Linked DNA regions of Homo sapiens. The protein of the gene in region 1 purifies or fractionates together with the protein of each later gene. This does not show direct contact. Each region holds a gene or a part of one and is shown in the gene's direction. Other genes may lie near its edges.

Region 1 (3,747 bases):
GGAGCCCGCCCTCGGGCCGGCCAGCTCTCGGGGCCGAGCGGAGCTCTGGGCGGCGCTCCTCCTGCTCATTCCCGCGCGGCTCGGCGTCCGGGAGGAAAGCCGCGGGAGGGCAGGTCAGCGAGCGCCGGGCCGCGGGAGGCAGCTTTGGGCAGATAAAAAGCCTCTGCCGCTCTTGGCCCTCTGGCTCAGGCCGAGGGCTGGGCTCCTCTGTAGAGCCGGTGCTGGGAGACTTCCTCCCTACACCTCGGGGTCTCTTCGGGCCTCGTGCTATTTATTTGTGCCAACATCTTTTTAAATTGGTTTTTTTCTATTCCTCTTTAGATTCTTTTTCCTTTTAAAAATTATTGGCATGGATGCTTTTTCTCCCCTCCAGATTATATAAACATTAAACACACACACGTACACACACACACACGTTTTCAGTAGCGATTACTGTGTTGACACCACTTCCACTCTGTCTCCCCAGATCAGCGCTTCTGACGAGCCCATTTGCACGGGGACTCGGCCCTCTCTTTTCCTGGCGAGGCTTTTGAACCTGTCGCCAAGCCAGTACCTCAGAGAGAAGGAAATGCAGAGGGACGAGAAGGATGCATGGCGCCTGCCCCCAGTTAGATGTTCTTCAGATAATCTGCAACCAAGTGCGCTGATAAAATATTTAATAAAGAGCCGGTAAACATCACTGCAAATACATTAAGGCATTTCAGCCCGACAGCTTATGATTATTTCAAAACTTAAAAAGGAGATCATAGATTGTCACTGTTTCTGTACTCAACCAAGAAACCGAACCTTCCTGAGGTGGGTGGATTGGTGGGTGAGTTGCTGCTTTTCGCCCCCTCTCCTCCCCCCTTCTGCTTGTCGCTGTGGCTCTCAGCAGCAGGGATTTATTTATTTATGTTTGCAGTTTAAAAGGTGGGGGTGGGGGCGCCGAGGACATGTAGGATCTGCTCACAAAGCACCAGCTCAGGTGTTGTGTGCTTTTGTATTAGCTGGAAAAGACAGACTCTGGAACTTTTACAGGGCGAGAAGAGGCCACCGGCTCGCGCTTTGTATACTTTGCACTTGAAATCGTTACATTCAACTGAATATTTGGCTCATTCAGATCCGAAAAGTCTCCTAGCATCGTCGAATTCCCTCCTCCGCCCCTCCGCTCTAAAGGGGGGAAGGGGGGGAAGGTAGGAAATGTTTAGTAAATTCCACATCTTTGAATCTTCCTAAAGCAGTGGTCACAGAGCTTAAAGGTGACACAACAGTGCTCACGTAAACCAACACACATTCCCCACCCCCCAAGCCAACAATAAAATCATCCCCTTCAATTTGCCATGATCGTCGCTACCAGGAGCCAGGTGATTATCCTAATTAATGTCTATCTAATTAAATTACTGTCAGCAGCTAACCAATGGCAGGAGCCGTTTCATCGGCTGCACAAGCAGCAAGATCAAAAGTGAGCCTTTTCTGATTGCTGCATAGTGTCAATTGGCCAATCTCTTCTCCCAGGGAAAAAAAAAAGTAAATCAAACCTTTGAGAAGCATTTGCTGGTTGAAGTGCTTTCTGTCTAGTGAGGGGGTCTGTGGATTTCTAGTTTATGATAAATAGGACTTTAAAAACCAGGGACGGGAGGGCGAGTGTTCAGGTTCTAGAGCTATGCAGCTGGAGCACTGCCTTTCTCCTTCTATCATGCTCTCCAAGAAATTTCTCAATGTGAGCAGCAGCTACCCACATTCAGGCGGATCCGAGCTTGTCTTGCACGATCATCCCATTATCTCGACCACTGACAACCTGGAGAGAAGTTCACCTTTGAAAAAAATTACCAGGGGGATGACGAATCAGTCAGATACAGACAATTTTCCTGACTCCAAGGACTCACCAGGGGACGTCCAGAGAAGTAAACTCTCTCCTGTCTTGGACGGGGTCTCTGAGCTTCGTCACAGTTTCGATGGCTCTGCTGCAGATCGCTACCTCCTCTCTCAGTCCAGCCAGCCACAGTCTGCGGCCACTGCTCCCAGTGCCATGTTCCCGTACCCCGGCCAGCACGGACCGGCGCACCCCGCCTTCTCCATCGGCAGCCCTAGCCGCTACATGGCCCACCACCCGGTCATCACCAACGGAGCCTACAACAGCCTCCTGTCCAACTCCTCGCCGCAGGGATACCCCACGGCCGGCTACCCCTACCCACAGCAGTACGGCCACTCCTACCAAGGAGCTCCGTTCTACCAGTTCTCCTCCACCCAGCCGGGGCTGGTGCCCGGCAAAGCACAGGTGTACCTGTGCAACAGGCCCCTTTGGCTGAAATTTCACCGGCACCAAACGGAGATGATCATCACCAAACAGGGAAGGTAATACTACATTTTTGGCTGCCGCTGCTCTAGGCGCAGCCGGGGACAAGTGCACCTAGGCTGTGACTGCCGCGGCAGCGACGATTTGGGGTCGGGAGCGGAGTGGAAGGCGCCCTAGAGTTGGCTAGTTTTGGAAAGGGGGAAAGTGGAAGGGATAACCGCCAGGGTGATGTTGGTGGGGGGGACCCCGTTCTAGGAACATAGTGGGAGAGCCAGTCAGTGGCCAGAGGAAGGCAAGAAAAAGGAAGAGCCCTGGCCAGCGGCTGGGCGATGGGAGGGACGCATCAACACTGGCATGCACGGACAGGTGGAGACGCAGGTCGCCAACCTCGCTCTCCACCTGGGCAGTGATAACTGCCACCTTCCCACTCCAGCTCACCCGCCGCTCTCCCTGATTTGGGTTGCACTTCTTTTCTTCTCCCACCACCCTTTTTCTAATCCAGCAAATATTCGCCTATTTGCTGCAAGTACAAGTTTTGCTTTGCTAACTGGCGCCCCGCTTCTTGCATTTAATCTTTAACATTTATGTTTCTTTTTTCCTTGTTTTCTCCCCCCACCCCTTAATTTAAATAGGCGCATGTTTCCTTTTTTAAGTTTTAACATTTCTGGTCTCGATCCCACGGCTCATTACAATATTTTTGTGGATGTGATTTTGGCGGATCCCAATCACTGGAGGTTTCAAGGAGGCAAATGGGTTCCTTGCGGCAAAGCGGACACCAATGTGCAAGGCAAGTCCTTCCAATTAACACATTTTCTTGACACTTATTTAGGTGAGAATGATTAATTAAAGCCTTTGTGGACTGGCTCGAGCGACTTTTAAAACGATCGGCCAATGACTTCTAAAAGGAAACGAGGGGGACAGGGGGACAGACTGAGCTGCGAGAAGGGGGAGGATTATGCAAAAGCTATTTTAATCACCCCCAGTTAATAGGAAGAAAGAATGGCCTAAAAAAGCCCCAGTTAATGGGCTTCATGGTGGAGTAAGGTGTGTGTATGTGTGTGTGTGTGTGTGTGTGTGTGTGTGTGTGTCCTACGTGGTGAGGAGCTGGGACTGGGCAGTGCCAGGGGCATATGTAAACAATGTATTTCTTTCTCTAGGAAATCGGGTCTATATGCATCCGGATTCCCCCAACACTGGGGCTCACTGGATGCGCCAAGAAATCTCTTTTGGAAAATTAAAACTTACGAACAACAAAGGAGCTTCAAATAACAATGGGCAGGTCAGTGGCTCAAGCGCTCGTGTTTTCTCTCTCTCTCACCCCTTCCTCCCTGACATCCAGTTCGTCAGTGTAAAGCAGCATATGGAACTGGATACACGTTTCTTTGCTTCATTAAAAAGACTTAAAAATTGTATTTCCACCCTCCAAATTTATATTAAATCTGTAAAGTTGTTCTCATTGGCAACACCTCCGT
Region 2 (3,647 bases), on another chromosome or scaffold:
AGGCCGCGGCTCCTGAAGCTGCACCAGTGCCAGTCTGATTCCCTGTCTCAGATTTAAGTGGTTTGTTTGTTATTTTAAGAAGTGTGTTACTAGCCCTGTCTCTTGATTCATGGACCTTTCTGCCAGTGCTGCTGTATGCGCTGGCTTTCGTGGAGCAGTTATTGCAGAGCCTACAGTTTTGTTAGTGTTTGGGTCTATTTGTGCTTTTATAGTATCAGATTTGTGCAGGTTTTCTTTTTGAGATGGAGTCTCCCTTTGTTGCCCAGGCTGGAGTGCAGTGACGCGACCTCAGCTCACTGCAACCTCTGCCTCCCGGGTTCAAGCGATTCTCCCACCTCATCTTCCTGAGTAGCTGGGATTACAGGCACCTGCCATCATACCCGGCTAACTTTTGCGTTTTTGTAGAGACGGGGTTTCACCATGTTGGCCAGTCTGTTCTTGAACTCCTGACCTCAGGTGACTGGCCTGCCTCGGCCTCCCAAAGTGCTGGGATTACAGAAGTGAGCCACCGTGCCCGGCCTGTCTCAGTTTTGTAAATGCTTCCAGCTGGGTACACAAATGTGAATGAACTATATTAAAAATGCTCTCATGATGTATGGGTGCAGCCGGGAGGGGCAGGGTGGGCTGCGGGCCACTGGAGACTGGTGAGCACCGTTCTGTCTTGCCCAGAAGACCCTGCAGTGCGAGGCCGCCTGACTGAGTGCCTGGAGACCATCCTGAACAAAGCCCAAGAACCGCCCAAGTCGAAGAAGGTCCAGCACTCCAACGCGAAGAATGCCGTGCTCTTCGAGGCCATCAGCTTAATCATTCACCATGACAGGTGTGTCGGCTGCCTGTGGAGAGGCTTCGTCTCGCGCACACACACACGTTCCTTCTCGTTGGCACGAGACTGGGCGGATCATGTCTGGTTTGTCCACTCCATGGGCCTCCCCTTCGTCCTGCCTCTGTGCTCCCTGCCGGATGCTTTTTTTCTTTCTGTGCAGCCCGGCCCCTCCTGCTCTGAGCTCACCGTGGATTGCTTTGGTGACTGTGGTCTCATCCCACACGAGGGCCTTTTCCTCCTTCCCCTGAGCATCCCCACTCCTGACTGGCTTCTCATGTAGTGGAACAGAGAGGAGACGGGTGGGGTGGGGGGTGTGCGCGCATGTCCCGTGGCTTTGCTGGATGTGGAGCCGCACTTGGTGGGTCCAGGGTCGCAGGGCAGTGCTGGAAACGTCTGTGCCCATCCACGAAGCGCAGAGGCGCAGGGTGGCGGTCGCTCCACACAGCCTGGAGGGTCTGCCTCCTCTGCTCCCACGCCTTCTCTGCTCAGCAGTTGCGGCGCACCACATGTGGTCTGGCGTGGGTCTTGCGTGTGGGGCCATGCTTTAGGGTCCTGTGAGAATGAGATCGCAGTTCTCACCAGGCTCCCAATAATGAGGGCACGTGCCAGGCTGTGGGCAGACGCTCTCTACAGCTTGTGAACACCACCCATTTGCTACTACAGCATTTTTACAAATGATGAAAACTCAGTCTGAGAGTCACACTTCAGAACTGAGAGTTATTAAAACTGAAATTTCCCATTTTGGAGAAAGCTCTGTTGTTATGTGAGGAGAAGCCACATCCTGAGGAGACAGTAGAGTCAGTGGGGCAGCAGCCGCGCTCCCGGCCTTCTCGGCCTTCTCCCTGCCCTGGGCTGGTGCCTCTGGCTGAGACCCCATTGCCGGTCACAGCTTGACCGGCCTCCCGCGGGCCTGATGCAGATTGAGGCTCAGGAGGTGCTGGGAAGGCTCCAGTGGACACACGGGCTGCTGACTCACTGTGGGGATGCACAGGATGGACACAAAATGGATGTCAGGGGTGGGGGTCGGGCGTCATCTGCATCTGGGGAGGCCCCCGAGTTCCCACTTGAGCAGTGTGGTGGCGGTGAGTGCCGTGTGACTTTGCTGTCTGCCATCTGGACCCGTCGGGGAACGCAGACTCTGTCCAGTTTGTGTTGCACTTGCTGAGGAAACCCCACCCACTTCCCCTCCCTCCACACAGTGAGCCGAACCTGCTCGTCCGTGCCTGCAACCAGTTGGGCCAGTTTCTGCAGCACCGCGAGACCAACCTGCGCTACCTGGCCCTGGAGAGCATGTGCACGCTGGCCAGCTCTGAGTTCTCCCATGAGGCTGTCAAGACGCACATCGAGACGGTCATCAACGCCCTGAAGGCGAGTGCCCTGTCCTTGGGTTCTGCTCACTCCCTGAGCAGGTGCCGTGGGTCTTCCTGTGAAGGCTGGGGGTACGCAGTGCCTCCTGACTCCCCGCAGAGATGGAGGTGGTGCTGGTGCTGCTGGCCTCCGCCTGTCACCTACTCTTGGGAGGTCACACCACTGTTGAGGGCCATGCTGCCTGGAGATGGCCGGGTTGGCCCTGCTGTCCTGGTTAGGCTGAGCAGAGGAGTCTCTGGCAGCCCTTTCCCTGCTGGGGGCAGCCCCCGTGTGCCATCCTGCGCGTGCATAGTGCTGACAAGTAGAAATGGTTCTTCTTGGTAGAAAGATGAAATTTTTTTCCCTTATCTCCAAGAAAATCCCCCTTTTACAAAGGAAACTCACTTTGTTCGGGGATTAAAATTTCAGAGTTGGGGCCGGGCGCGGTGGCTGACGCCTGTAATCCCAGCACTTTGGGAGGCCGAGGCGGGTGGATCACAAGGTCAGGAGATCGAGACCATCCCGGCTAACACGGTGAAACCCCGTCTTTACTAAAAATGCAAAAAAAAATTAGCCGGGCGTGGTGGCGGCCGGTGCCTGTAGTCCCAGCTACTCAGGAGGCTCAGGCAGAAGAATGGCTTGAACCCAAGAGGCGGAGCTTGCAGTGAGCCGAGATCGCGCCACTGCACTCCAGCGTGGGCGACAGAGCGAGACTCCGTCTCAAAAAAAAAAAAAAATTTCAGAGTTGGAAGAGCCCAGTTGAGGTTGGCCATTGCCAGCCTTTGCGAGTCTCCAGAGCGACCCCGAGGGTTCGTTCCACATAGGGGACCCTGCGGTGTGTCCACCAAGTCCCTAGTCACCGGTGCACATGCGTTAGGGAGTGGGAGGCGGGGAGCTGCATGTCCCCCATCTGGCTCAGCCTCAGGCTGTGGCAGGGCTGCTCCCAGTCCCCCGCACGTCTGCGTGCAGCTCACAGATATTCCGGGTGGTGTGCAAGGGGCTCGTGGTGGGCATTTGGTATTCTGGATTCTTCTTGGTCCTGGTTTTGGTGTTTGTTTTAGTCAATCCCTATTGTCAGAAGGGCTGGACACTCATTTGCACACGGCCAGTGCTAGCGCTGGTGGTGCCCACTCTCCTGCCTTTGTTGGGAGCAGAGCTCGGGCTTTCTCGTGCTGCAGAGCCTCCTGGGGGCCCATCAGCACGGGCTCTGGGGTGGGGCGTGAGGACCTGCCTTGGGGCAGCTCCGTGTCCGAGGCAGTGGGGTCTTTGGCTGCATGGAAGGGAGTCCTTGATGGCCTGCACCAGGCAGTGCGCTCAGTCCTAGCGAAGCTGGCCCTTGTGGAGGGCAAGGGAGGCATGGACGAGCGGGCAGAATCCAGGCAGTGCGCTGGGTCCTAGCGAAGCTGGCCTGTGCGGGAGGGCCGGGCCAGCAGGCGGAACTCTATTCCGGGCTGTCCAGACACACGTGGCCCGAGTG
Region 3 (3,647 bases), on another chromosome or scaffold:
TTAACGTCATTGAGGGCCACAGAGAGGCCACTGTGAGAAGCCGGAGGTGATGGGCATCTCTTTTAGCCATCAGAATAAAGCTTTCAAGGATTATGAGGGAGAAATTGAGAGAGATCCCCATTTGGAGGCCGTTACAGTGTGGTTCTTGTGAATAAGGCTGGTAGTGTTAATGTAGGGGTGGAGTAAAGACCTAGATGAGAGGGTTTGTTTCTAAAGTGCTGAGTTTCCCGAAAGGTAGGAGGAAAGTTTCTCTAACTGTGTAGAGGATGGTCTTGTGTCTGTGTTGACTGATTCTCTTGTAGACCGAGATTTTAGATGAAGATAAGCGCTTAGGCAGTGCAGTGGATTACTACTTTATTCAAGATGACGGAAGCAGATTTAAGGTAAGCCCCTGACTGCGACAAGCTAAAACCCACTTTTATGGGTGTTCATGTAGCTCTGTGACTGTCAGGGAGGGCATGGGAGGCTTCCAGTGCACAGCAGCCCATAGCCCAGCAGAACTCGGGCCCCTGGAGGCCCCATCAGTCATCACGTAAGATGTCCTGAGAGAGGTCAGTTCAGGAAGACTCTGAATGGTGAGAAGTAGCGTGTCTTTCAGATTCTTGCCCCTGTGAAAAGTGCGCATTCTGACTTCCTGTATGCTACCAAGGTCAAGGCTACCCTGGCCCTAGGCTGTTCATGGGATATAGGAGCAAGCAATGTGTTTTCACTTTTCTCTCGCTTTCTTCTTTCTCATCACCCCTGGATGGGTTGGTGACTCTTAACAGGTGGCTTTGCCCTATAAACCGTATTTCTACATTGCGACCAGAAAGGTGAGTGTGTTTCATAGACTCAGGTCAGACGACCTGTGTGTCATTCTGTGGTGGGCTTTGCAACTGGGAAATAGGCAAGGAAGGAAATGTATTTTACCAATGGAAAGCCTTTTCATTCTGATCCTGATTAGGGTTGTGAGCGAGAAGTTTCATCTTTTCTCTCCAAGAAGTTTCAGGGCAAAATTGCAAAAGTGGAGACTGTCCCCAAAGAGGATCTGGACTTGGTGAGTATCACCCAGACTTTCCAGGGGTAAATGAGGCCAGAGTCTACATTGTTCCTGGCAGGTGGGATCGGAAGAGGTAGAAATTCAGGTCATCTGTTGGGTGATGGGGCGGTGTGGTGACCGTCTATAAAATTCCTTCCAAAGAGCTCTAGTGGTGTTAGTTGGTGCCACGTGCAGAGTTGGACAAGGTGCCTTGAAGTCGCCAACTCTTTGACTTGTGTGTTTACCTTTGAGTGTTTACCCTCTCACCCATAAAGTCCTATTTCTCTTGAACCAATGAGCGTGATCTCTTCGCATTATAGCCAAATCACTTGGTGGGTTTGAAGCGAAATTACATCAGGCTGTCCTTCCACACTGTGGAGGATCTTGTCAAAGTGAGGAAGGAGATCTCCCCTGCCGTGAAGAAGAACAGGGAGCAGGATCACGCCAGCGACGCGTACACAGCTCTGCTTTCCAGGTAAACTTTGGTCTTGTGAGCAAAGCATCAGCGGTTCAGAACGACAAGATGGATAGGAGACAGGAACACGTAGCAACAAAGTTACCTTAATGGCTGGCTCTGTTTGATACGGAAAACTTGAGCAATTAGGTAGAGATTTCTGTATGTTCTGTGTTAAATAAACAGTGGCTTCCCAGGTTATATTTTATGTGTTAGCTCTCTTTTCCAATGGAGGGGTGGGTTTATGGCTCTAAAATTGAGTGGTTGTAATAGTAAAGTCACCTTAGAGGGGAAAAGATCCCTCATCCTACTGCCCTAACACAATCCATCTATGAATTTCATTAAGTGCTGAGATTTACACAGCACATCTCCAGAGAACCTTGGGTATCGTCCACAGAAATTTAAGCCTAGAACACTAAACACTGTTCTTCAAGTATTTGAGCATCAACAATAATAGGATGCAAAGTAACCAGTTAGGAAGAGAAAATCTTGAGTAATGAAGTTTAGATGACTTCGGAAGAACCTACCTTACCCTCTGACAAAAGAGGATCAGTTTGGGATGCTGAACATTTCTACAGTCCCTACCCGGAGTCCGCCTTCCCTGGCAATGCCACAAGTTGCTTTTTGAAATATTGGAAGGTGTGATCAGAGACTGAGTCCTCAGAGACTTGAGCCATATCTGAGACTCGTCTGTCTTTTTCCCCCTGAATAGCCCGTTCAGTATTTGAGCTTATAGGCCAATAGTGGCCGCAATGGTGGGCCACTTCTTTAGACATGGCAGAGACCCATGCACAGGCTGTGTGAAGCCCAGGCCTGCTCTTCAGCCTGCATGAGGCAGCCTCCTGAGTATCAGGACCATGGTGGGATGGTCATGCCTGGCTCTCCTGACTGGCAGCACTTAATGTTTTCTTTCTTTTTTCTTCTATTTACTTATTTGTTTTGAGACAGGGTCTTGCTCTGTTGCCCAGGCTGGAGTGCAGTGGTGCAATCATAGCTCACTGTGGCCTCGAACTCCTGGGCTCAAGCGATCCTTTCACCTCAGCCTCCTGAGTAACTGGGATCACAGGTGTGTACCCCATGCCTGGCTAATTATTATTATTATTATTATTACTTTTGTAGAGATGAGTCTCCCTATGTTGCCCAGGCCTGTCTTGAACTCCTGGGCCGAAGCGATCCTCCTGCCTCCCAGAGTGCTGGGATTAGAGGCATAAGCCACCATGCTTGGCCCTCTTTTTTTTTTTCTAGTTGGGGTGTAACTCACATCATATAAAATGAATACATCTTACACTGAATTTTCTCCTGTCTGTAGAGTTATCATCCAAGCTATTCTTTATTTTTTTGAGATGGAGTCTCGCTCTGTTGCCCAGGCTGGAGTGCAGTGGCGCAATCTGGGTTCACTGCAACCTCCGCCTCCTGGGTTCAAGTGATTCTCCTGCCTCAGCCTCCCAGGTATCTGGGGTTACAGACATGCGCCACCACGCCTGGCTAATTTTTGTATTTTTAGTAGAGATGAGGTTTCGTCGTGTTGGCCAGGCTCGTCTCGAACTCCTGACCTCGGGTGATCCGCCTTCCTTGGCCTCCCAAAGTGCTGGGATTACAGGCGTGAGCTGCCACGCCTGGCCCAGTCCAAGCCATTCTTAAAGGAAGGACTGCCTTGGTCGTTGAAACCACATCAATTTACCTTTTGTGTTTCCTCGGTTTGAACTCTGGTCTCACCTCTTCCTACTGAGTTGGAACTCTGGTCTCACCTCCTCCAGACCCTGGCAGCTGAGTTAGTTGCTCTCTTGTTAATTCCTAGTGTTCTGCAGAGGGGCGGTGTCATTACTGATGAAGAGGAAACCTCTAAGAAGATAGCTGACCAGTTGGACAACATTGTGGACATGCGCGAGTACGATGTTCCCTACCACATCCGCCTCTCCATTGACCTGAAGATCCACGTGGTGAGTGGGGCAGGGTTGGGTCGCTGCTCACATGAATTTCCTAACAGCCAGGAGATGATCATTATGGGTGAATCCACAGAAGAATAGACTTTCCTGGATGTAGAACTCTAGTTAGCACACTGTGTGTTTTGCAGGCTCATTGGTACAATGTCAGATACCGAGGAAATGCTTTTCCGGTAGAAATCACCCGCCGAGATGACCTTGTTGAACGACCTGTAAGTTTTGCTTGTGTTAC

The links.
Region 2: the proteins of TBR1 (region 1) and AP2A2 purify together in Homo sapiens (affinity purification with mass spectrometry, with the first as the bait; one large-scale study listed by BioGRID). This does not show direct contact.
Region 3: the proteins of TBR1 (region 1) and POLE purify together in Homo sapiens (affinity purification with mass spectrometry, with the first as the bait; one large-scale study listed by BioGRID). This does not show direct contact.

Annotation. Positions count from the first base shown.
Region 1 is NC_000002.12:161,414,769-161,418,515, forward strand, and holds the start of TBR1 (T-box brain protein 1), read left to right. Parts: upstream 1-1,528; 5' UTR 1,529-1,642; coding exon 1,643-2,334; intron 2,335-2,907; coding exon 2,908-3,062; intron 3,063-3,432; coding exon 3,433-3,554; intron 3,555-3,747. UniProt on the Homo sapiens protein: Transcriptional repressor involved in multiple aspects of cortical development, including neuronal migration, laminar and areal identity, and axonal projection.
Region 2 is NC_000011.10:984,763-988,409, forward strand, and holds part of AP2A2 (AP-2 complex subunit alpha-2), read left to right. Parts: intron 1-669; coding exon of another isoform or gene 670-672; coding exon 673-820; intron 821-2,022; coding exon 2,023-2,191; intron 2,192-3,647. UniProt on the Homo sapiens protein: Component of the adaptor protein complex 2 (AP-2). Adaptor protein complexes function in protein transport via transport vesicles in different membrane traffic pathways.
Region 3 is NC_000012.12:132,677,343-132,680,989, reverse strand, and holds part of POLE (DNA polymerase epsilon catalytic subunit A), read left to right. Parts: intron 1-302; coding exon 303-383; intron 384-767; coding exon 768-812; intron 813-943; coding exon 944-1,036; intron 1,037-1,338; coding exon 1,339-1,493; intron 1,494-3,270; coding exon 3,271-3,412; intron 3,413-3,546; coding exon 3,547-3,627; intron 3,628-3,647. UniProt on the Homo sapiens protein: Catalytic component of the DNA polymerase epsilon complex. Participates in chromosomal DNA replication.